3 separate regions of the Homo sapiens genome follow, and all the other regions are linked to region 3. Evidence: fine-mapped expression QTL. A gene starts in region 3. Each other region holds a variant in brackets. All regions are shown on one strand. Distances are between the middles of the regions.

Evidence for each region.
Region 1: its variant is fine-mapped to the expression of NUMB in whole blood (TOPMed, PIP above 0.99).
Region 2: its variant is fine-mapped to the expression of NUMB in whole blood (INTERVAL, PIP above 0.99).

Annotation. Positions count from the first base shown.
Region 1 is chr14:73,314,442-73,322,632 of GRCh38, reverse strand. NUMB (NUMB endocytic adaptor protein) reads left to right here. Exons shown (of 13, transcript NM_001005743.2): 6 at 6,211-6,243. Among named protein-coding and RNA genes, the nearest start is that of PAPLN-AS1, 73 kb to the right of the region's middle. The variant C/A (reference allele first, on the strand shown) is at 4,983.
Region 2 is chr14:72,986,846-72,995,012 of GRCh38, reverse strand. ZFYVE1 (zinc finger FYVE-type containing 1) reads left to right here. Exons shown (of 12, transcript NM_021260.4): 4 at 1,656-1,870. Among named protein-coding and RNA genes, the nearest start is that of TRC-GCA8-1, 28 kb to the right of the region's middle. The variant AG/G (reference allele first, on the strand shown) is at 4,612.
Region 3 is chr14:73,454,010-73,462,200 of GRCh38, reverse strand. NUMB (NUMB endocytic adaptor protein) reads left to right here and starts at 3,655. Exons shown (of 13, transcript NM_001005743.2): 1 at 3,655-3,708. LOC101928143 (a long non-coding RNA gene) reads left to right here. Exons shown (of 3, transcript NR_135251.1): 3 at 937-1,266. RefSeq lists enhancers at 2,259-2,792, 2,793-3,326 and silencers at 3,312-3,511, 3,702-3,791, 3,802-3,931.

The DNA.
Region 1 (8,191 bases), 140 kb after region 3:
ATAACTGGGCTATAAATTAGGGGTTTTAAATATACTGTAAAAAATAGCTTCCTGGGGAAAACTAGAGGATAGAGGTCTGTGTTGATGCCTGGTGAGGTTTCCTTTTTGGAGACTTCTTACTATTACCTTGACTCCTACTCCCCAATTTTCTTCTCTATACACCTCTAACATAAACAGTCTATTTCTACTGCCTTTTACATAAACTTTAGCACACTTGAAGTAGAGAGCCCTTTCCCAGGATAACGTTTCCTCTGCCTGTTATGCGATAGAACACATCCCAGGCACATGCCTGTGTATTCAGTGAAAGGAAAGAACGAGTTCGGAATTCATAAAGATTCAAAGTGTTAATTTCAGATTTTCCATAGGTTTGAGGAATGTTCCATAGATCTGATAGCCCTTTTCACAACCCTCCTTCTCTCTAATATGTGGCCTTTCCCCACTTTGCTGTGAAAGCTTTAAGCATTACTTCTGCATGCTCTGGTCCCAACAGCATTAAATACATGTTGCTTTGGGTTTGCTGGTATGGTGGGCTGCCACAAGTTTGACTACTAATGTGTGCTTTTTTCCCTCAATTTGCTTAGTAATCAGAACTTTTGTGCTTCTCGGCATAGTCTATATTACTTCTTATCTATAATTCCTGAATATAAAATATATAAAATTTAGAGAAAAAGCAACCAAGTCAGAGAGGTAGATTTAATTTTGGGATAAATACCTGAATCTGTCATAGAAGGGAAAAGAGAAAAGTAATTGGCTATAATATACAAAGAACTAAAAAATTTTAAAAAAAGATACAGACATACCTACACATATATACATACATAGATACCTATACATACTCTTTATCTCAGATTTTGATCATTAAAATTCTTAAATGATTCAAGCCTTTGCTAGTCTTATCTGTGCTCTCCCAATCTGTCATTACGTTAAGGGGACCTTGTGTTATGGTACATGAAATTATAGTTTGTAGACCTTCCATGCCAACCTAAATATATTCCCCAGTTGAACATAGTCTCAGATAATTTAATTTTCCATTTTGTCAAAACCAAATTTAAAAGAGAAGTAAAAATTTAATTTTCTTTAACAAAATAATTCCGGGTTTATCTAGAATAATAATAAACAAAATATCAGTTACTCGGGAGGCTGAGGTAGGAGGATTGCTTGAGTCTAGGAGTTTGAGACCAACCTGGGCAACACAGCGAGCCCTTGTCTCAACTAAATAAATACACAAACAAGATGATTTTAGCTAAGAACATTTTTTTAAAGTAATGCAGTTATTTGCCCATTAAATAATATTTTATACTAATGACTGAAAACAGTGAACAGACTAGATAGCCCTGAAACAAACTATAAATAATTATTAAAATCTTATAATTTACACAACTTATGGTGAAATGGCCACTGTGGAATGAGCCTTTAGAAAGTCTTTTGATTCAGAGTATGACTTCATGTGCACTCTGTAAGTAAGGAAAAGCTAGAGGTGGTTTAAGTTTGCCCAGAACATATTGAGAAACGGTATTTTGTTGTTTAATGAGCAGTTAATCCTCTTACCTGTCTAGCTTTGTTTTTTTTTGAAATACTTTTAATTAGAAATATCTCGTTATTATATAAGCAATATGTTTATTGTATAAAATACAAATGAACCAAAAAAGTACACAAATAAAATGAAATTTCCTACAACCCCAGAGATAGCCACTATTTAACTATCTAGTTTTAAAACTAATGTTTCAGTAGATTTTTTTGTTTTATTTTACCTTTTTTTTTTTTAAACCAAGAAGATAATAGGCGTGATTGCTTGAGGCATAGGACTATTTAGATAATAAAATTTAATGTTTTTATATTCATCAGAATTAGGAACTAAATAGCCATTTTAAAAATTATACCTATGCATGGAACAGTGGCTGGCACATAGTAGTAACTCAAAAAATACTTCTAGAATGAATATACAGAATACAATCTGATCTACAATATGTGGTCAAATTGAGTCTTACAATAACCATAATCAAATATTATGTCTAATGTTTTAAGTTTACCAAAACTGTTTTGTTTATTTCTAAAGATCTTTATTTTCCTGTGGTTTTTAATGACTAAAAGAAAGTTTTAAGCCGAACACAGTAGCTTGCGCCTATAATCTCAGCTACTTAGAAGTCTGAGATGGGAGGATTGCTTAAAGCCAGGAGTTCAAGACCAGCCTGGGTAACATAGTGAGACCCTGTCTCTATAAAAATAAATAATAAAAAAGAAAGTTTTAGATATGTTGGTGATTGTTTTCTAAACATACTTAAACTTTTAAACTTTGAGGGGAAATTGACCATTTCTAGACTTCTTATCAAGAAGTTATTTAAAATTTTTCAGACAAAAACTAGATTTGGAGCAAATGTTATATGTAGTTTTGCACTGGCATGTATTATTAAAACATGAAATTGAAGTTTTGGGTCACTGGAGTAAATTTCCTGTTTCTTATGCTCAGTGAAACATCCCCATTCTTTTTTTGCCCCCCCGCCGAGTCGGAGTCTTGCTCTGTCACCCAGGTTGGAGTGCAGTGGTGTGATCTTGGCTCACTGCAACCTCTGCCTCCCAGGTTCAAGCAATTCTCCTGCCTCAGCCTCCCGAGTAGCTGGGATTACAGGTGCCCGCCACCACACCTGGCTAGTTTTTTTGTATTTTTAGTAGAGACAGAGTTTCACCGTGTTGGCCAGGGTGGTCTTGAATTCATGACCTCGTGATCCACCCACCTCAGTCTCCCAAAGTGCTGGGATTACAGGCATGAGCTGCTGCACCTGGCCTCCCCTTTCTTTTAAATACTCTTTCTAGAGCTATACTGAGAATCTTGCAGAAAATCGGAAGTCTTTAGGATACTGTTCTTCTCATATCATAGTGTGCCACATGTATTCCTGATTTTTGTCTTCTTTTCATATTTTTACTATGCAGAAATTTCTCGTTGCCTTTTGATTTCTCTGAGCAAACATTCATCTAAAAATCATCCACTGGGGATCTACAACCTACTTTGCCAGATACTTATATTGTGCCAAATGCTATGTTTCTGGAGACTTTTTGTTTGTTTTTTTTATAGATTATAAAGCTTCCTTTTAGAGTTTCAAATAAGTGGGAGCAAATATAAGGATGCATAAGCCTGCAGAGGATTAAAGAAGAAATAGGATATCTTTGAAATTAGTTTGAATGCCAGAGTTTAAAATTTTAAAGAATAGCTCAGATGTACCAGTTAAGTAACAAAACAAGCATTTTAAACCTACCATGTGAATGATCTTTGGAAGGCAGCTATGCTCATCACTGTACCACCAACACATCTAGTGAATAATCTTTGAACTAAAAATGTAATATTTCTGGTGCTTTTTATTTATTCATTTTTTTTGGAGTGGAGTTTCGCTCTGTCACCCAGGCTGGAGTGCAGTGGCACGATCTTGGGTCGCTGCAACCTCCGCCTCCCGGGTTCACGCGATTCTCCTGCCTCAGCCTCCAGAGTAGCTGGGATTACAGGCGCCCACCACCACACTCAGCTAATTGTATGAGACGGGGTTTCACCATGTTGGCCAGGCTGATCTCCAACTCCTGACCTTAGGTGATCCACCAGCCTGGGCCTCCCAAAGTGCTGGGATTACAGGCATGAGCCACTGCGCCCAGCCTTCTAGCGCTTTTTAAATTTGTGAACAATTGAGGAAAGAGATAATTTGCAAGTGTTTTTCACCAAAATACTCTCTTACAATTTAGAATTACATTAACTTCAATTGGAAGTCATCTGCATACTTGATATGCTCAAATGAAAAAAATATTATAACTAAACAAGATAGTGTTTTAAAAATATGCTCCTCAGAGCATAAATATGTTAATTTTTTAACTTTCTGGGCATAAAGTTATTGACAGCTATTTTCAACTCATTTACTTTGTCATATAACCTCACTGATTAGCTACTTTGGGACTTAGCTTCTATAGGATAAATGACAGAAATCACTATTGCCCATTGTTACTGCCTTTATGGCATATCAGCTACAGGGTGAGGAATATTGTCATATATCAGCCAATTCCATAAAAAAGTGTATAAGGCCTTTGGTTATCTTGCTTAACTCTAGTCCAAGATGCCCTTCGTTTAAGGTCATTTCTTCCCATTGTTTCTTAAATGTCTCTCCCTCTGTCTTAGTTTTAGACTAGTTTCATTATACTACCAGTTTCTAATATGTTGGTTTTTTATTCACTATTTGATATATTTGTTTTAATATATGTTCTTGTTTTAGCAGGTAAAAGAATCATAACAAATGTTTTTAAAAGAACATTATTATTCTTTAATAACTGTCTTTTTATGCATTTTGCATGCCAACTTTTTTCATTAACATCTTGGGTATTTTATAAAAAGAGGGAAAGCTCAATGTTTAACAGTAGCTTTTCTAGGAGCTAAATTAAATATTAACAATCTCCTTCCTTCACCTTCCCATCCCTCAAGAATGGTGAATATCTTAACTTTGGCCGCATCCTTGAAAGCTTATGGTTATTCATAGTCTAACAAAACTAGGGTCACCAAACTTGGCAGCAGAAATAATCTAGTCTTACTGTGATAACTACCCAATTACTTTATTATTTTTCCAGTTGCAGTTCAAAATGTTTTGTGGAAATATTTTTTGCTGTTTGTGATTTTCAAAGCTTAGAGGGGAAAACAAACTTTCCAGTGTTGGAGAGCACTGAATAGTTTATGAATTGTGTAAAAGAGTCAGATTTCAATGCAATTATCTTTTCCTAGACATTTATCCAACATTAAAAACCTATGATTATAAAAAGTAAAGGCTTAAAGTATATTTCAACCACAGCTAGGAAATGTAAAGTTAAATCTAGCTTGTGTGAGTTCAAACCCATCTAATTTGTGTAAATTCTACAGATTTTAATTGGTGGCCAGTTTTCATAAATGGTGCTTAAAAATTGGTGCTGATAGCATAGATAGTTATGCCTCTGTTATCCAGATAGTTTCAGAATTGTTT[C/A]CTTATAAATGTCAATGCAAGTTTCTTTATTTTAAAATAACAGCTTTTAGGTTGGGCGCAGTGGCCCATGTCTGTAATTCCAGCACTTTAGGAGGCTTAGGCAGGTGGATCACTTGAGGTCAGGAGTTCGAGACCAGCCTGGCCAACACGGTGAAACCCTGTCTCTACTAAAAATACAAAAATTAGCTGGATGTGGTGGCGCACACCTGTAGTCCTAGCTACTCGGGAGGCCGAGGCATGAGCATTGCTTGAACCCAGGAGGCAGAGGTTGCAGTGACCTGAGATCGTGCCACTGCACTCCATCCTGAGTGACAGAGTGAGACTCTGACTCAACAAACAAACAAACAAACAAAAACCAAATAATAATAAGCAATAGCTTTTATAAAGAAAACAAAACCCTGTTTCTTAAATTTCAGTTGTGGCCCACAGACATCATTTGGTTCTTAGGATACTTGTTTTCTCAGCTCTTGTATAAACATTAGCCTTGTAACCTTAATAGATAATTTATTCTGTGTCTGGAATAAAACATACATGTTATTTCCTTATGTGTGTTGTGAAATTGATCAGCACACCTGTACATATAGATTGATACTAATGTAAGTAAATGGAAAGCCAATGGTCAAGCTCCCCTTAAGTGGTATGGAGTTTCTAAGTGACATCTTGAACTCACTAAGAAAAAAGTATGACAAGGACCTTTGATGCATACTCATTTAATTTTACGTATTACATTTTTAATGTGATTATGTGGTCATTTGAATGTGGACTTTTTTAAAATTGGTGACTTTCACATAGTTGACCGCCAATTTTAAACTTAAAAAATGTATATGGAACCAGTCTTCTATTTTCTATTCACTATTATAAAATTTAAAATGCAAATCTCACCAAACCAGTATGCCCTATTGTTTTCTCTGCTGCCAAATTTGGAAGATCTCTGTTTTAAATGTAAATAGCGATTACTAAACTAACTGGTTGCTCTGCATGGATACAGGTTCTGATTTCTTCTTACTCTTTCTATGGATTCTTAGGCTATACAGTGTGTTTCCCTGCATTTTCATGCACCCTTCCTTTTTCCCTGTCACTCCTGGTGTGGATAACTCTTTGAAACTCACTCCCACCCCTTCTCCCACTTTTTCCTTTCCCCAATTTCTGTATGTGCTTATTGGTGTGAAACTCTGGGACATTTAGGCCATACAATAATAGCACTCGACTTGTCCCCCTGTTCCTCCAGGAAAGGAAGTTCTTCAAAGGCTTCTTTGGAAAAGTAAGTTTGATGCCACATTCATGCTTGCTTTATAAGGAGTTACACCCCTAGTGTAGCACTGACATATTTTTTAAAACTAGTACAGCTTTGGTTTCTTTATAATGCAGGAATTGGTTTGATTGTATATGGAAATTAATGAATTAGGAAGTTACTATCCGTGATATTATCAGTGGGTCTACTGATACTAAATCTGATGATTCTAAGAAATTCCAATAAATAGGCTGGACACGGTGGCTCATGTCTGTAATCCCAGCACTTTGGGAGGCCAAGGCTGGTGGATCACCTGAGGAGTTCGAGACCAGCCTGGCCAACATGGTAAAACCCTGTCTCTACCAAAAATACAATACAGGTGATGTGCACCTGTAATCCCAGCTACTCGGGAGGCTGAGGCAGGAGAATCGATTGAACCCAAGAGGTGGAGGTTGCAGTGAGCCGAGATCACGCCACTGCACTCCAGCCTGGGTGACAGAGTGAGACTCTGTCTCAAAAAAATAAAGAAATTCCAATAAATGAATCAAGTAGGTTAAAAGAGGATTATCTCCTCAATAGTAGGTATTAAAATAAATATCATTTGATCTTGTAAACCCTGTTTATATTAAAATATTAGCAATATTTGTAACAAGTGGATTTTACATAATGCCCAATATTCACAGGGAAATAGGAAGAAATATTTGAGTAAAAAATAAATATACCCCAAAGTTTACATTCAGTGCAATTTTTTTTCCAATCTAAATTAAATTTCAGGATAGTAAGTGAAAATGGATAAACTTACCTTTAGGGATCCTGCTATGATTTTTAACCTGCATTGCTAATCTAAGAAAAAGTATCTTAATTATTAGCCTACCAAATATCTGTCATATGTGGAATGTTGTTTATGTAGATGCTTTTCAAATAATGATTATTCAGTGTTCAGATCTCCCTAAATTTAAGAATATATGGGGTGGCTGTACACATATCAGTAAATATATTTCTAAATATATTTTGTGTCCAAGTTTATCCTTGTTTAGTTTTGAGTAAGTGCTAAAACTAATTCAGACTGAGACAGTATGAGAGAAAAATACTGTCATTAGATAACAGTATAAATTACTAAAAATTTATGTGATTAACAAAATCCTACAATTTTTTTTCTACTGCATGGTTTTGTCATTTTGGAACTTTGTTTTAAAGAACAAATAATTTACATTTCCTTCTCAATTAAATGTTTAAATGGAACTCATTTTTGCATTTTCTTGTTCTAACTTGTCACCTTAATACTAGTGTAAACAAATTTGAAGTATTTTGATCTAATGATTTAATTCAGTTACTCCTCTCAATCTGAAATAAAAAGTCAAATAATTTACCCACACATGTCACAATACATTTTTTAATAGACATTTTGGGTCTGAGTCAGATTAATAGGTCCTTAGAATATGGGATACATATCTAGAAAGAATCTTATTATTTCCTGTGTAGCACAGCATTATAAGTAGGGATTATATTTGTTAAGGAAATTGATAATTGTTAAGGACACTTTAGGAAACTTTTTGTGGTGTATTTGTTTTTTCCTAAACAGAGTTTCCGAAAGCAATTACACATCGCCACAATTATCATACAATTTTAACTATTGTTCAAGTGACTAGTTTTAATAAGTCTACTTCAAGCAGCAGATAAGGCTATATACGATAAGCTATATAAGATAAGGCGTCATAGATAAGATGAAGGTCAGGTTATAGCAAATATTGATTTGGTTTTTAGAAAGACAATTGTAAAAGTATATATTTTAGCTGGATGTGGTGGTGCACGCTACTCAGGAGCCTGGAGTGGGTTAAGGAACAAAGCTCTTCCCTCAAAATCAATCCTGAGGTCACAGTATTTATTGCTACGTATAATGGGGCCATGATGCACCTACACTGTAGCTGAGCTGGATCACACTGTGTTGGGTAGCTTTTTCACTGCATTTTTTTTTGCT
Region 2 (8,167 bases), 470 kb after region 3:
TGAATCCATCTGTGCTATGGCTGCCCAAGTTTCTGGACAAATGATGAGAGTGTGGGCAAGCAAATACCCTTATACATTGGTAGTTTGCCCAGAGCTTCCTCACAAAAGACCAGAATTTTCAAAGTACAGAGAATTGTAAAAGTTCATCAGGAAGGTGATTAGTTAAGTATATCCACAGGATCGAAGACTGTATTGCTGCTTTTGAGTGTATTGTGACAAGGACAGGTACTTACAGTATGTTATTAAGTGAGAAAAGAGCAAGTTGCATATATATGTTGCTAAGTCTGTAGGAAAAATGTCTGAAAGGGCCAATATTGAGCTGTGGTTACTTTCGGGAAGTAGGTGAGAGCAGAGGACATAATTTCTTTCCTTTTATGCTTTGGCATATCTAGATTTTTCCAATGAATGGGTTTTTGGGAAAAAAGACTCCTCCTTGAAGTGTAATGTGCATACAGAACAGTGCGTATCATATCAAGGTATCATGTGATGAGTTTTCACTGCCTGAATGCCCCTGCGTACTCAATGCTAGACCATAGGACACCAGCCCTCCTCATAGAAGCCCTCCTCATGTCCTTTACCAGGAAAGGGTAACCTGAGTTCTCACAGCATAGATCAGCTCTGCCTGCTTATGTACTTCATGTACATTGAGTCAGAGTATCTTACTTTTTTTTTTTTTTTTTTTTTTTTTTTGAGACAGCGTCTCGCTCTGTCTCCCAGGCTGGAGTGCAGTGGTGCGATCCCGGCTCACTGCAACCTCTGCCTCCCAGGTTCAAGCAATTCTTCTGCCTCAGCATCCTGAGTAGCTGGGATTACAGGCGTGCACCACTAGGCCCGACTAATTTTTGTATTTTTAGTAGAGATGGGGTTTTACCACGTTGGCCAGGCTGGTCTCGAACTCCCGACCTCAGGTGATCCACCCACCTCAGCTTCCCAAAGTGCTGGGATTACAGGTGTGAACCACTGCACCCTCCCGTATCTTACTTTTTTTTTTTTTTTTTTGAGACGGAATCTCTCTCTGTCGCCAGGCTGGAGTGCAGTGGCGCGATCTTGGCTCACTGCAACCTCCACTTCCCAGGTTCAAGTGATTCTCCTGCCTCAGCCTCCTGAATAGCTGGGATTACAGGCACCTGCCACCACGCTTGGCTAGTATTTTTAGTAGAGATGGCATTTCACCATGTTGCCAGGATGGTCTCCATCTCTTGACCTGGTGATCCACCTGCCTCGGCCTCCCATAATGCTGGGATTACAGGTGTGAGCCACCGCACCCAGCCTCGTATCTTACTTTTATAATGAAAGATTTTTGTTGTTGTTGTTTGAGATAGAGTCACTTTTGTCTCCCAGGCTATAGTGCAGTGGTGCGATTTCAGCTTACTGCAACCTTCGCCTCCTGGGTTCAAGCGATTCTCCTGCCTCAGCCTCTGGACTAGTAGGGATTACAGGCATGCGCCACCACGCCCTGCTAATTTTTTTGTATTATTAGTAGAGACAGGGTTTCACCATGTTGGCCAGGCTGAACTCCTGACCTCGGGTGATCCACCCACCTTGGCCTCCCAAAGTGCTAGGGTTACAGGTGTGGGCCACCGTGCCTGGCCTACTTTTTTTTTTTTTTTTAAATGTCACTCACTACCCATGTGCCTGTGTTTCTGCTTGTATAGATCATCCCTCAGAGGTGCCAGAGAAGCTCATCCAGGACCGGTTCCGGAAGCTGGGCCGTTTCCCTGAAGCCTTTAGTTCCATTCACTACAAGGGAACGAGGACTTACAACCCTCCCACGGACTTTTCTGGGCTTCGGCGTGCTTTGGAGCAGCTACTAGAGAATAACACCACCCGTTCTCCCCGGCACCCGGGAGTCATCTTCAAAGCCCTGAAGGTCAGTTGGCTTGTGCCCCAAGGGCTTCTCATTGGGGTGCCAGTGGGTGGTGAGAACACTCAGTTCGCCAGCTTTTGTGGTGCTGGTGATTGGAAATCTGGGTGGAAAGAGGTTATAAGAAGCGGAAGCACATGAATGGAGTCCGCACCTGTCAGATGCTTTCATCTTGCCAGGAGTGCAAATATGGGGAAGTCATATGTGATAGTAAAAAAAGTGCCCGGTCCTCAGCTAGGAGAAAAACCAGGCACTCATTTCTGGCTGGTGTGGCTCAGCCCTGGTGAGTTGGTGTCATGTTGAGTCTCACTTAATCTGGACAGCCTTTATGCTTTTCTTAACATTGACTCACTGTTTTTTTCTTATTTAAATTAATTTATTCATAGAGGAAACTTTTTGTTATCACTATAAGCGGAAAACTAGTATCACAGGTAGAAATTGTTTTTTGTTCGGGGGGCGTTTAGGAGCAGAGGTTTGATAGGCAAAAGAAAGAGAAAGAACAGCTCTCTCTCTCTTGCAAGGGGCGGGGGGGGCACCTGAATGGGACCTCCCCCCAGAGGTAGAAAATTACCAAAACAAAACACAAAAATAGATACACAATAACACTACTATTTGTTATATACCAAAGTTCAGAGTACTCTGTATGGATTAGTTCACTTAATCCTTACACCAACTCCATGAGTTAAGTACTGTTAACATCCTCATTTACAGATGAGGAAACGGAGGCACCAAGAGATGTAGTAATTGGTTATACACAGTTGGTGAGTGACAGCAGGCCTAACACCTGGCCAGTTTACGCTAGAGCTCCTTCTCATAACCACAAAGCCTGTACTGCCTCTCAACAAATAAAATCGCCTATTATTCCTTAGCTAGAGACTATTACGCATGGAAGGTTCTGAGACTGGGTCCTGTTTTTTCTTTCTTTAAGAGGGAGATTTACAGCCAGGCGTGGTGGCTCACGCCTGTAATTCCAGCACTTTGGGAGGCCGAGGCGGGTGGATCACTTGAGGTCAGGTGTTTGAGACTAGCCTGGCCAACATGGTGAAACCCCCTTTCTACTAAAAATACAAAAAAATTAGCCGGGCATGGTGGCGCACTCCTGTAATCCTAGCTACTTGGGAGGCTGAGGCAGGAGAATTGCTTGAATCCGGGAGGCAGACGTTGCAGTGAGCCGAGATTGTCCCACTGCACTCCAGCCTGGGAGACAGAGCGAGATGCTGTCTCAAAAAAAAAAAAAGAGGGAGATTTGGCCTCTTAAAGAGAGGTGGGGATTAAATGAAAGCATACTTAAGAGACAAAGTACTTGTTATATAGTAAAAATGTTCAGTGAATGTTAATTGTGAATAATATTAAGGAAAAACTATTGAAAATGATTACATTTGAATAATTCATGAAATACATACATTTCCAGTTAGAATTTGAAGTTCAAGTGCACTTAGTTGTATTGGCTAATAATGTCCTTGTAGTGGCTCAAAGGCAGTGAAAACGGAAGATGACGCTTACCTAATGCAAACATTCTGAAAAGACGCTGAATCAGGCAAAGGGGCTGTAAATCTGATCACTGTGCATTATAAGGCAAATAGGCCAGAGGCTGGATTATAGCAGCTCCTTTGCTCTTCTGGAAGCTAACCCAGATTAATGTTTAAGTAAGACCATCAGGGGCCGGGCGCGGTGGCTCACGCCTGTAATCCCAGCACTTTGGGAAGCCGAGGCGGGCGGATCACGAGGTCAGGAGATCGAGACCATCCTGGCTAACACGGTGAAACCCCGTCTCTACTAAAAATACAAAAAATTAGCCGGGTGTGGTAGCGGGCACCTGTAGTCCCAGCTACTTGGGAGGCTGAGGCAGGAGAATGGCGTGAACCCGGGAGGCGGAGCTTGCAGTGAGCCGAGATGGCGCCACTGCACTCCAGCCTGGGCAACAGAGCGAGACTCCGTCTCAAAAAAAAAAAAAAAAAAAAAAAATACCATCAGGGACACTGAGCACTGTAAACTGTAATTAGTGCTCAGGGATTTTTCCCCTCAGAAGTCTTGGATGTCCTACCTCAGGCCAATTTATTACTGGCTTTGAGAAAAATAGTTAGACTGTATTCTTCCGAGGTGGTAAGCGTCACCAAGCTTTCTGCGATTAAAATGAACCTGGTCTGTCGGGTGAGGTGGCTCATGCCTGTAATCATTCCCAGCACTTTGAGAGGCGGAGGTGGGCAGGTCACGTGAGGCTAGGAGTTCGAGGCCAGCCTGGCCAACATGGTGAAACCTGTCTCTACTAAAAATACAAAAATTAGCTGGGCGTGGTGGCAGACTCTTGTAATCCCAGCTACTAGGGAGGCTGAGGCAGGAGAATCACTTGAACCTGGGAGGTGGAGGTTGCAGTGGGCCGAGTACAGTGCGCCACTGTACTCTAGCCCAGGCAACAGACCTAGACTCCCTCTCAAAAAAAAAAAAAAAAAAAAAAAAAAGGCCAGGTGCGGTGGCTCACGCCCTTAATTCCAGCACTTCAGGAGGCAGATGGATCACCTGAGGTTGGGAGTTCGAGACCAGCCTGACCAACATGGAGCAACCACGTCTCTACTAAAAATACGAAATTAGCTGCGCGTGGTGGTGCGTGGCTGTAATCCCAGCTACTCAGGAGGCTGAGGCAGGAGAATTGCTTGAATTTGAGAGGCGGAGGTTGCAGTGAGCTGAGATCTTGCCACCGCACTCCAGCCTGGGCAAGAAGAGCGAAACTCCATCTCAAAAAAAAAAAA[AG/G]AACCTGTTCAGCTGGAATTCTGATGATTCCTGGTAACTGGCATCCTCAAAATTTCACCGAGATCTGATATTTTCTATTCTCTGAGGTATAGGGGCTGTGTTATACTGAGCTATGGGACTGAATTCTTTTGTCTATGGGAAGGAGTCAATTTGTTTAAGCTTGTGATTTGGGTTCTCCCTAGAGAATTTTGCAGTTGTTGCAGTTTACCCAAATCTTTGAAAAAATTGGTTTTGTACTTTTTTGTTTTAAACATCCTTTAAATTAAAAATGCTTAATTCTCTGGTTATCACTCTAATAGCCACTTTTAAGGTCTGCCTTAGGCAAATTGACCAAGTAGAGTTTTATTGTTAAAATAGACTCTAACTAAAGTTTTCATAGTTCATAGCAGTGTATAATATAAATGGCTGTCTTTTCTTCTCCACTTGTTTTTATTTTGTTTTATGCTGTTGTATTAATTTTTTTTTATTAGTAGCCTTGAGTCCTTTTGAGATAAAAGAGTTGGGGTGGGTATAAACAGATAAATGACACGTCAGAATAATTTGTTTGATTTCTTGAATCTCCCATTTTTTCTTTCTTTTTTTCTTTTTCTTTTTTTTTCTTTTGAGACAGGGTCTTGCTCTGTTGCCCAGGCTGGAGTGCAGTGGTGTGATCACAGCTCACTGTACTCCAGCCTCTCACAGCCACTGCACCAGGCCCCAAGAGCTTTTAACTTCATGCTGTATTCCTTCCCAATAGTTATTTCGCTTCTAAAGAGGTCAGAGGATGGGACCATTTTAAAAGGTTCCTGATACATACTGTCAGTTATATTTGAGTATTTGGTTATTTTAATTAAAACAGAGATGTCATTTTAAAAATTATAAAAGCAATGCATATTCATGATAAACAATTCAAGTACTGCAGAATGTATGAGACTTAAGTCCCCTTTCCTTCCCCTACCTCCCCCCTCCTCAGTCTGTAGAGCTAACTCTTAATACTTTCTCACATAAGTGTCTAGAAATTTTTATTGCTGTGTAAGCACATGCATAAATATATGTTATAATGTATGTTTTTCTTCCTGAATAAATGGGATCATAGTAAAGTTAAATCCTTTTCCCCTGCCTAGTGTCCTTTTCTAACTCTGCAGATAACCATTATTAGTAGTTTATTATATATGCTTATAGAAATTGCAAATGCTGGCTGGGTGCTGTGGCTCATGCCTGTAATCCCAGCACTTTGGGAGGCTGAGACAGGCAGATCACGAGGTCAGGAGTTCAAGAGCAGCCTGGCCAACATAGTGAAACCCCATCTCTATTAAAAATACAAAAATTAGCTGGGTGTGGTGGCGGGTGCCTGTAGTCCCAGCTACTTGGGATGCTGAGGCAGAATGGCTTGAACCCCTGGAGGTGGAGGTTGCAGTTTGCTGAGATTGCGCCATTGTACTCTGTCCTGGGCGACACAGCAAGACTGTCTCAAAAAAAAAAAAAAAAAAAAGAAGAAATTGCAAATGCTGTAAAAGTGCATGTGCGTGTATGTATATATATCCTTCATAAATGAGATCATACCATTTATATTATTCTATGATTTGGTTTATTTTCACTTTTTTTTTTTTTTTTTGAGACAGAGTCTTGCTCTGTCACTCAGGCTGGAGTACAGTGATGCAAACTTGGCTCACTGAAACCTCTGACTCCCAGGTTCAAGTGATTCTCATGCCTCAGCCTCCCAAGTAGCCTGGATTACGGGCACACACCACCATGCCTAGCTAATTTTTGTATTTTTAGTAGAGACGGGGTTTCACCATGTTGGCCAGGCTGGCCTGGAACTCCTGACCTCAGGTGACCCGCCCACCTCCGCCTCCCAAAATGTTGGGATTACAGGTGTGAGCCACTGTGCCAGGCCCGAAATGCCTATTTTAAATGCCATTAGTATATTTAAAAAAAAAGTTATTAGGCCAGGTGCAGTGGCTCACGCCTGTAATCCCAGCACTTTGGGAGGCTGAAGCAGGCAGATCACCTGAGGTCACGAGTTCGAGACCAGCCTGGCCAACACGGCAAAACCCCATCTCTGTGAAAAATACAAAAATTAGCCAGCCGTGATGGTGTGTGCCTGTAATCCCAGCTACCCGGGAGGCTGAATCAGGAGAATCCCTTGAACCCCGGAGACGGAGGTTGCAGTGAGCTCAGATTGTGCCACTACACTCTAGCCTGGGTGACAGAGCAAGACTCTGTCTCAAAAAAAAAAAAAAAAATGTTGTTAGCCCTATCTTATTTTTGAAGTTCCACCTGATTGATGCAGTACTCTGTTGGATTCAAAGGAAGTCAAAGTACTACTTTTTGTGTTTATTATTGACCGGGAAATGTGGATTTGGAAATGTGATGAATGAGAAGAACAGTTTTTGGTGTGCACACATGCATGCACATATGTGTGTGTGTGAGAGAGAGACAGAGAGAGAGCTATGCAGCTGTTTTCTGCCCTAGTGGCTTGCCCATACATACCTGGGAGTGGTTTCTCTATTCCTCCTGCTGACAGGATCACTTTTGATGTCATTCAGCCACACTGTTGTGCAGGCCCCAGGCCCCTTTTTTTCTAGCTGGCTTATGTCCCATTTCTTGACTCCTTTGCTCAGGGTCCACAATAGCAACAGCCCAGATACCTACAAGCAGCGCATACCTGCACTGAGCAGATAAACCTGCTTGCAGGAAATAAATGCTCAGGTCTCTATCGAATAGAGGAATTAATATTCAATACTGGAATTGAATATTGAGTTAACTATGGTTGTCTGTACTTACAGTTCTGAATAGTTGGGAGAACCATTTCATAGTTGAATTTGTATAGGTTTTATGTAATTTTGTCTTAATTTTTTTTTTTAAGACAGGGTCTGGCTCTGTGTCCCCTAGGCACCATCTAGACTCATTGCAACCTCTGCCTCCTGGGCCCAAGCCATCATCCCACCGCAGCCTCTCAAGTAGCTAGGACTAACAGGCACACGCCACCACACCTGGCTAATTTTTGTATTTTTTGTAGAGACAGGGTTTTTGCCTGTTGCCCAGGCTGGTCTTGAACTCCTGAGCTTGAGGTATCTGTCTGCCTTGGCCTCCCAAAGTGATGGGATTACCAGGAGTGATCCACTGTGCCCAGCCTTTATGTACCTTCTTTAACCTCTGAGCTCTAAATGTAGAAACTCTTGACGTTCCAATTCTGTCACATCGGGAAGCATTTATGAAGTATTTATAAAGTTATGTTTTGTTGGGGTGTGATGTCACTGATGACAGAAGTGTGTCCCTTTTGAGTCAGGAAATTCATTGCTAGCCCTTGATGACTGGGGCCAGCCCTATAGATACAATAGAAAGAGCCACACTGTTGTCAAGGCAACTAAAGTTCAAGATCATCTGGTCTCCAGGCAACCTTTTCCAGACTTGCCTCAAATGCTTTCCCAAGCTTTCTTGGGGTAGGTGGGCCCTTCCCTGCCTTTCTCTTCTAGCTTTGGGATCTCAGGAGGAGGAGAACCCAAGAAACTGTGGAATGATGTGAGGTTTGGAATTTTTGAACCTGCTAATAAGTATATGGATCAGGTGGTA
Region 3 (8,191 bases):
CCTTTTCCCTCCCCTTCTCTCTAATCCCTTCATCTTTGTCAGCCTCCACCCTCAGGGATCCCTAACTCAGGAAGCTACCTCTTATCAAATATTTTGGCTTGCCTCCAACTGCTAGTGGCAGGCAGTTCTGGCCCTTGTCTGCTATCTGAGCGATTTTCTTCTCCACCGGTTGTTTATTTCTCTAATCTAGTTGGAATTGGAATCGTGTGTAGAATCCAGAGGAAGAAAATCCAAAAGCAAAAAATGGATCCTTTCCCTAGTGAGATTGCCCCTGTGGGCTAAAATAGAAATGGAAAGAGACTTGGATTCTTTTCCCTTGAAAAGTGACATTATGAAAGAGCAGGAGAAACAGCATTAGTGTACAGGAAAGCCCAAGGCACACTATATCACTCCTCAGATATTGGACATCACTCTGAGTCCTCTATTTTCTGCTTAATTGGGATTATAAATGCTATTTTTGCCCCGAATGTACCTGCCATCTTGGTCGTGCCCAAGTGGCTCTGAACAGATACCATCTGCAGGACCTCCACAGCCAGCCATGCAACAGGAAGCTGCAGACTCCCAGACTCCAGTGTTCTTGTTTTCTGAGAGGGAGCCCTGAGAATGGTAGAGAAGCAAAAAACACAGGAAAGAAAAGAAAAAAGCTGGATGGAGTAATTACATGATAGGGTTACCTTGTGCACGTGAAAGCAAAATGTAGGGATACAAGCAATAACCCCTCCGGTACTGCACAGTCTTTGATAACACAATAGCCTTCTGTTATTTCAAGGCATGTTCCTTGAAACCTTCCTTAAGGTTTTCCCACTACTTACTGGGTTGTAACATATTTATTTTATATGTCCTTTCTTAACTGATATTCACAAAGAATAGGAATGATAGATGTGTGTATATGAGCAAAAGCATTTATACATGCTTTCTTTTTTTTTTTTTTTTTAGTGTATGAAATAGCGGCTGACTTTTGTGACAATTTTCCACCCAGTTTTGTGATAGTAATTTCGCTGCATTCTTCAACTTAGATGGCAAGTCCTCTTAGCAAGGCTGGCCTAATTCTATGTTTTCTATGGCACCTAGTCACTATGGCTGTGCAAGAGCCATTATTACCCAAAGTACCATAATAATGGTCATGTCCTCCTATGACGTTATTGTTTCCTATCTGTCAGGACATTAATTGTCTTCTAACTTGCTCTAAAATTGGTAGCATGGCACACTGCCAAGACTAGAGAGAAGCAAGCTGCTGGTGATATATTAAAAGGCTGTGTAAAAGGACATATTGGTATTTGCTTTTTCTTGGGGCATCTTCACATTTGCATTACTTCACATGTTATGGGATGTTAGCTCAGGCTTGCCTTATGTCTTGGCGTCTATCTTATCATGGTCAATGTCTGATCTTTCCTTCAGCTGAATGATTCAGACATCTCTAAGTTATTTTGGCTTTTCCACTTTCCTTTCACAGGCTTTTTGTGAGTCATTGAATTGAATGGGAGGTTATTTCTAAATTGGAAGGTGAGGAAGAGAGGAGGGGGAGGAAAGTTCCGGAAAATAACTAGGAAAAGGCACTTTATTGTTATGTATAGTTACTGGAGGAATAATTTCTGCTTAGTCTGGTGATAGAAGTATGTACTTTATTTAAACTTGACTAAAAATATAGGCTAGAAAAAAGACAATATTTTTCTGAATAATAAACCATACAGTTTTAGACTCTTTGTAGCTTGCTCTGCAAAGAACAAGGAGGTTAGTAAATAGAAGAAATATGAGACAAAGGGTTAGCAGAAAGAAGAAAGAGACAAAGCACATTTCCAAAGTCCACATCCTTGAGGTGAATGCCTCCTTGACAGTGTCTTTTTTTTTTTTTTTTTTTAAGACAGAGTCTCACTCTGTTGCCCAGGCTGGAGTGCAGTGGCACCATCTGCAGAGACAGGGGTTTCACCATGTTAGTCAGGCTGGTCTCAAACTCCTGACCTCAGGTGATCTGCCCGGCTCGGCCTCCCAGAGTGCTGGGATAACAGGCATGAGCCACCGCACGGCCTGACAGTGTCTTAAACTATCCCTGGGTGTTGTTTCATGGCCCATGGGTATATGTATCATAGGTGGGGTTGTGAGAAAGTACATTTAAATCTGATTTAGAAACTGAAAGAGTAATCAGACCAGCATTTTGTTATTTAGGAGCAGGAAAAGTGGGTGAAAAAAAAGGAAAAACAAAAAGCTAATGATGAATATATTTCTAGGAGCACAAGAGTTTTTATAGCAACATTAGATTTCTCAAAAATGCCTACTGTGATTTGTACCCAAGTGAATAAAAAATGCAATCATTTATTCTTGTGCATTGTGCCAAGTGAGGAAAAAAAAAAAACACACACACACACAACCCGGCAATTCATTCAATGGCCCTAATTTAGACTGCTAGGAAGAGGTTTAGAAAAAAAAAAGAGAGAGAGAGAGAGAAGCTTTTAAAGTATCTGACACACAGCTAGTAGGGCTATTTAAGAACTGCTGAACAGAAAAACAAAGTGGCAGTGAGAGGTGGGGGAAAGCAGAATTCTCATTTCCAGAGCATCATAAAGGGTATAATGTGGCCCGCTTATTAGAAAGTTGCTGGCCGGGCGCGGTGGCTTACGCCTGTAATACCAGCACTTTGGGAGGCCGAGGCGGGCGGATCACCTGAGGTTGGGAGTTCGAGACTAGCCTGACCAACATGGAGAAACCCCGTCTCATGCCTATAATCCCAGCTACTCGGGAGGCTAAGGCAGAAGAATCGCTTGAACCTGGGAGGCGTAGGTTGCGATGAGCCGAGATAGCACCATTGCACTCCAGCCTGGGCAACAAGAGAGAAACTCCGTCTCACAGAAAAAAAAAAAAAAAAAAAAAGTTGCTAATGGCTGTCTGGTCAATTGGCAGGGGTCAGCCAGGAGTGGATCTGGAAGCTGGAGAACTCTCAATACGCCACTTCAGTTTATTGACGACATTTATAATTGCAACCGAAGTTGACTGATTTCTGCTAAATGAAAGTTTGCGCTTTGCCCTTTAGCATTGAGGCTCCTGGAAAGAACTTCAATGAAATTGGATGCATTGAGACCAAAGAAAAGAAGGGGACATTTTTATCTCTCTGATACCTTTCTCCCCAGGGCTTGGAAACACTTCTTAAACACAACCTCTAATGTTGGTGTTTTGTAAGTACTACCCCTATGAATAAAGCTAGCAGAGATAAGCTTCTCCTTGCAGGAAGTGAGCTGGAGAAGTGGAAAAGTTTACAGAGAAAACTCTACAACAAAGACTTAACCCTTCCCGGGTAACCACGAATGTGAGCGTCTGCCCCTCCTTTGCTTTCTACTGCGCAACCAAACTGTGCACAAGCGTGAATCAACCTTAACCGTCACGTCTCTTGCCAGTTAGCTTAACAGACACTTTTAGCAGCCTATCATAACTTCGAATTGCCCAACCCTCAACCAATTACAACTAAAGCTTGGGCTAGGACGCTCCAGGTCCGGGCGGGGGCGAATACCGGGTTTAGGAAAAGGGGCGGTAAAGAGCGATGACGGGCGGGTATACTAAACCAATCAGAGAGGAGAGCTGCCGCCCCACTATCCAATGGATAGGTTAGAAGTATGAAAGAGGGTGGGCCTGTTGTCATGGGGGAGGTGGTGGCGCTTGGTGGCCACTGGCGGCCGAGGTAGAGGCAGTGGCGCTTGAGTTGGTCGGGGGCAGCGGCAGGTGAGTGCCGGTAACGCGGGTCAGAGATCTGGGGGCCGTCGCGGGGCGGAATCTCCAGCTCAGCACTCCGGAGGCGGAGGCCGGAGGAAGGGGGCCTGGACTTCGGGTCGGGGCCCGGGCCGGGGCCGGGGCCAGGGCGGAGGCGGCGGGGGCGGCGGCGAGTTCGCGCTGACTGGGCTAGGGGGAGAGGGGCTGGGCTTCTGGCTGCGGAGTTCTCCCGAGGAAGGTAGGCTACGGCCGGACCCGCGCGGGTCAGGCCAGGAGGTCCCTTGGGACGTCCAGCTGCTCCGGTCTAGCGCGCTGACCGGCGGCCACTGTGTGAGGAGTAGGTATCTGAGGAAACGGAAGCGGCCAGGGTCCCAGAGAGGGGGTGACCTGTAACGACCTGCTTCAAGGGCGGGGTGTCTTGGGAATACCCAGGACGGCTTGGGTGCCAGGGAGAAAAGGAATCCGGGAAGCCCGGCAGCGGCCGGTGAGGAGAGAGCGGGGTGGGGGGCAGGGGAACTGGGAGTGGCCCCGGTCCGAGGGAGGTAGGAAGGCCGAGGGTGGCCAGGGTCCCGGGTGACAGGGAGCAGACTTGCTCCAAGTAGGGGCGTCTGAGGAAACGCTCGGAGGGGGTTGGGGACCCTCCTGAGAAAAGCGGCTGTCCAAGGGAGGGGGCTCCTGGAGAGATGAGGAGCAGCAGGTCTTCGGAGGGTCGGACGAGTAGAGATCTTGCACCGCCTGGGGGAAGAACCGGAGCTCCCTGCGCCCCCATAGCTGAGCTGGGATGGGAGACCCAACTGGCCTGGCCGCTCCGGCTCTGAGGATCCCTAAGGGACCAGGAAAGAAGTCCTCGAGGAGTGGCTCGCGTTTGAGACCGGGGTGAGGAGCCAGCAGGGGAGTGGAAGTTCCCTCGGTCGGAGAGGAGTCATGCAAAATGGGACGGAGATGGGCGGAGGTGGGAGAGAATCCCTATAGGAGGGGATAAGGTAGAGAAAGAAAGTTGCCCGAGGAGAGAGTAATGGTTTCGTGGAACTGGCTAGGACAGTAGATATATGAGAAATTAACAGTGGAGCCATGTAGGTTCACAGGTCTTCACAAATAGAAGAAACTTCAGTTTCGTAATTAATATCAAGATGACATCTAGGACCAAAGCAAAGCTCCTAAAAGCAAGGTTAAGTGACTTGTTTTAGAAAAGAAATTTGTTTTAGGATGATGGCAGTAATATTAGGAAATAGGTTCATTGACAGGGTGGGGAATTTGGGAGGGAAAAGGGGAGGAGTAGCTGAACTAAAGGAGTAGAAGTAAATACTTATCAGAAAGAGGGTAGGCATACTCGGCTAAAGTGAAAAGAAGTTTTGAGTTCTAGTTCCACCACTTAGCTAAGTTTCTGTGCAGTTTCCTCATCAGAATACTAATAGTAATAGTTCCTACTTTATAAGGTGGTGGTGGTGTTTTTTTTTTCATGTGAGTTGGTATTTGTAGAGCTTTTAGGATAGTGACTGGCACATAGTCGTGTGTACTGGATTGTTCAATAGACGATAAAGACCTGACTTCTTAAATAGAAGGTAAAGACCTGGCTCGCAGATGTTAGCTTGCATCAAAATCACCTGGAGGGCTTGGTAAAATGTAGATTGCTTGGCCCCACCTGGGGGTTTCAGTAGGTCTGGGGTGGGGCCCAATAATTTATATTTATCTCAAATGATGATCACGTTGGTCAGAGGACCACACTTTAAGAACCACTTACTTTAATGAAACCGGTAATAATGGTAGCAACTTTAAAATACCTGCTAAAGAGACAGGTAGAGGCAAATTGCCTAAAAGATCCTATTATAAAGGATACTCATTTTTAGCCTGTGTTTTTCAAACTGTGGATTGTGATTTATTAGTAATTTATAAAATCAATGTTGTGAGTTTTTACCTGCATTGAAAATAAAATGTAGAACAGAATAAACTGACATTGCATTTGGTAAGGAAAAGTATTGTTTTGGGAAACTTTTCTCCTACATGTATGTACTAGGTCACAATGTAAAGTGTATTTCTTTTTTTGAGTTCCTGGCCAAAGGATAAAATATATTTCTTACAGTTAAAAAAGTCTGAAAGCTGGGTGCGGTGGCTCACGCCTATAATCCCAGCACTTTGGGAGGCCAAGGCGGGCGGATCACTTGAGGTCAGGAGTTCAAGATCAGCCTGACCAACATGGTGAGACCCCCATCTTTAAAAAAAATACAAAATTAGCTGGGCGTGGTGGCGCGTGCCTGTAATCCCAGCTACTTGGAAGGCTGAGGCTGGAGAATTGCTTGAACCCCGGAGGTGGAGGTTGCAGTGAGCCGAGATCATGCCATTGCATTCCAGTCTGGGCAACAAGAGTGAAACTCCATCTTAAAAAAAAAAAAAAAGGTTTTTTTGGGAGTATTATATTCCATTAAATTTCTTCAGTTTCTGATTTGGTTCCTCCTGTGTTTGTCTTGTCACATATTGTGTTATGCCTCTGACTCTGGAACTTTTTTGGATATTGAGAATCTTTGGCATGAGAACTTAAGGGAATCTGAGGCAGAGAAATTGAATGGTGTTTCTCAGATGTTGTCCGCTTTTGTTTCACTTGTGCCCTCTTGTTCACCCTTTCTTTTTTATCACTGTACCGTAAAGCATTGTTTGTAAAAGCCTGAGTATACACAGACATATTGACAGTAAACAACACTGAAATGGACTGACTTGAGAAAATTTCATGTATAGAAAATAAGCAAAAACAAAGTAAGAAACACTGCAAAAGAGAAAAATGAAAAGATATTTCCTTTTTAGAGAGTAAAAATATTAAGTATTTCTTATCCTTACACTAATATAAAACATATACAGATATTTTTAAAGGAACTAGATATACAGTTTCTAGGTCTTTGTAGAGAAAAGAAATAGTGGTAATATGTGACAGCAAAATGCACCTGGGATAGAGGCTTAACTACAAAGTAAATCATTTATTAAGAGGGAGCTTTTGTTTAATGGTTTTCTCCCTTGAGAATAAACTGGATGTGGTACATGTTGTAAACTTAACTTGTTTGAGGAACCTAAATGTAATTTACAGCGTGTTTTTAAAAAGAATATGTATGTTTTATCTGTACGTGGTTTGATTTTTCTTCCATTGAAAGCTAGATGGTTTATATTTAGGAGTTGATTTAGATCTGTTTTTATGGCTGTTAAGAACAGGAAGCAGTATTGAAAACTGAAAGAGATCCTTGCAGCTTTCTTTAAAATCTTTAATCCAGGGGATTATGTAACCTCTTCATTAATGTTTTATGAAATTGTGAAGAAACTGTTGGTATAGCTTTGCATCAGGATTTTTGGTTTATTTTTTTCTCTCTCAAAAATAATTTTTAGTTTTATTTCAGATTATATTTCCTTAAAATTTTTATTTTCATTTGGAAGACTGCAAGGCATATAACCATTGCATATCTGAGTTCTAAAGCAGATGCAGACTTTTCACAAAATAAATTTACTGCTTTTTTTCTGTGACATAAGTTTCGAGAAGGAAAGCTTTTGATTTCTTGCATTGAGTTCAGTGGATTATTCTTAGCACTAGAGTTGTTGTTGAAGTCATGGTACATTTATATAGATCATTCAGTTCTACACCAAATGATGGAAGAATGAGAAATCCTATATGACAAATAGAAAAGTTCATTCTTCATAATTGAGAACATTGAGCAGTTTGATTACCTGGTTTTAATAAGTGGACTTATTATTCATCTGATTATACTTATCTAGGAATAGCTTTGATTGCCCAAATAATTTTACAGTGGGATTTGGTTGTCTGTAGTTGAATAAATGGTGGTTTTTAAATCCCAAAATCCTAACTGTGCTATTTAGTGAGACTCAGTTTCACATACTGAAGTTTTATTTAGGTAAGTGATTTTAAAAAGTAGAAGTTCAATTAACACTAGTTAATTAGGTTTATTTTCTATTTCAGAGAAGCCTTGTCTTGTTTTATAAGTCTCTGATCTACTTTTCTGCTTCCTGCTCTCCAACTCGCTGTACAATAAATTCTAATAGAAATGTGGGTAACTGAAAATCTAGTTCTCTAAAAGTATAAAACCCCTATATCTAGTTTTTTAGTTTGCTTCGAAACTTCCTAAACTAATTACCTTTAAAAAAGTATTTTATATAATAGAGTACTTGAAAAGCTACATTTTACTTTGGACTTGCCAAAACACATCTGTTGTGTGTAACAGGTTTTGATTTCTAGAGAATAGATCTTGAATTCTGCAGATTTCTGAACTCTGATTTTTTTCCTTTTTTTTTAAAAAAAAATTCAACTTTTAGTTTAGATTCTGAGAGTACATATGCAGGTTGGTTATATGGGTATATTGTGTGATGCTGAGGTTTGAGGTATGATTGGTCCTGTCACCCAGGTAGTGAGCATAGTACCCAATAGTTCTTCAACCGTTCCCCCCCCGCCCAACTTTTTCCCTCCCTCATTTTATGTTTTCCTGATAGGGCTGGGGAGAAATAA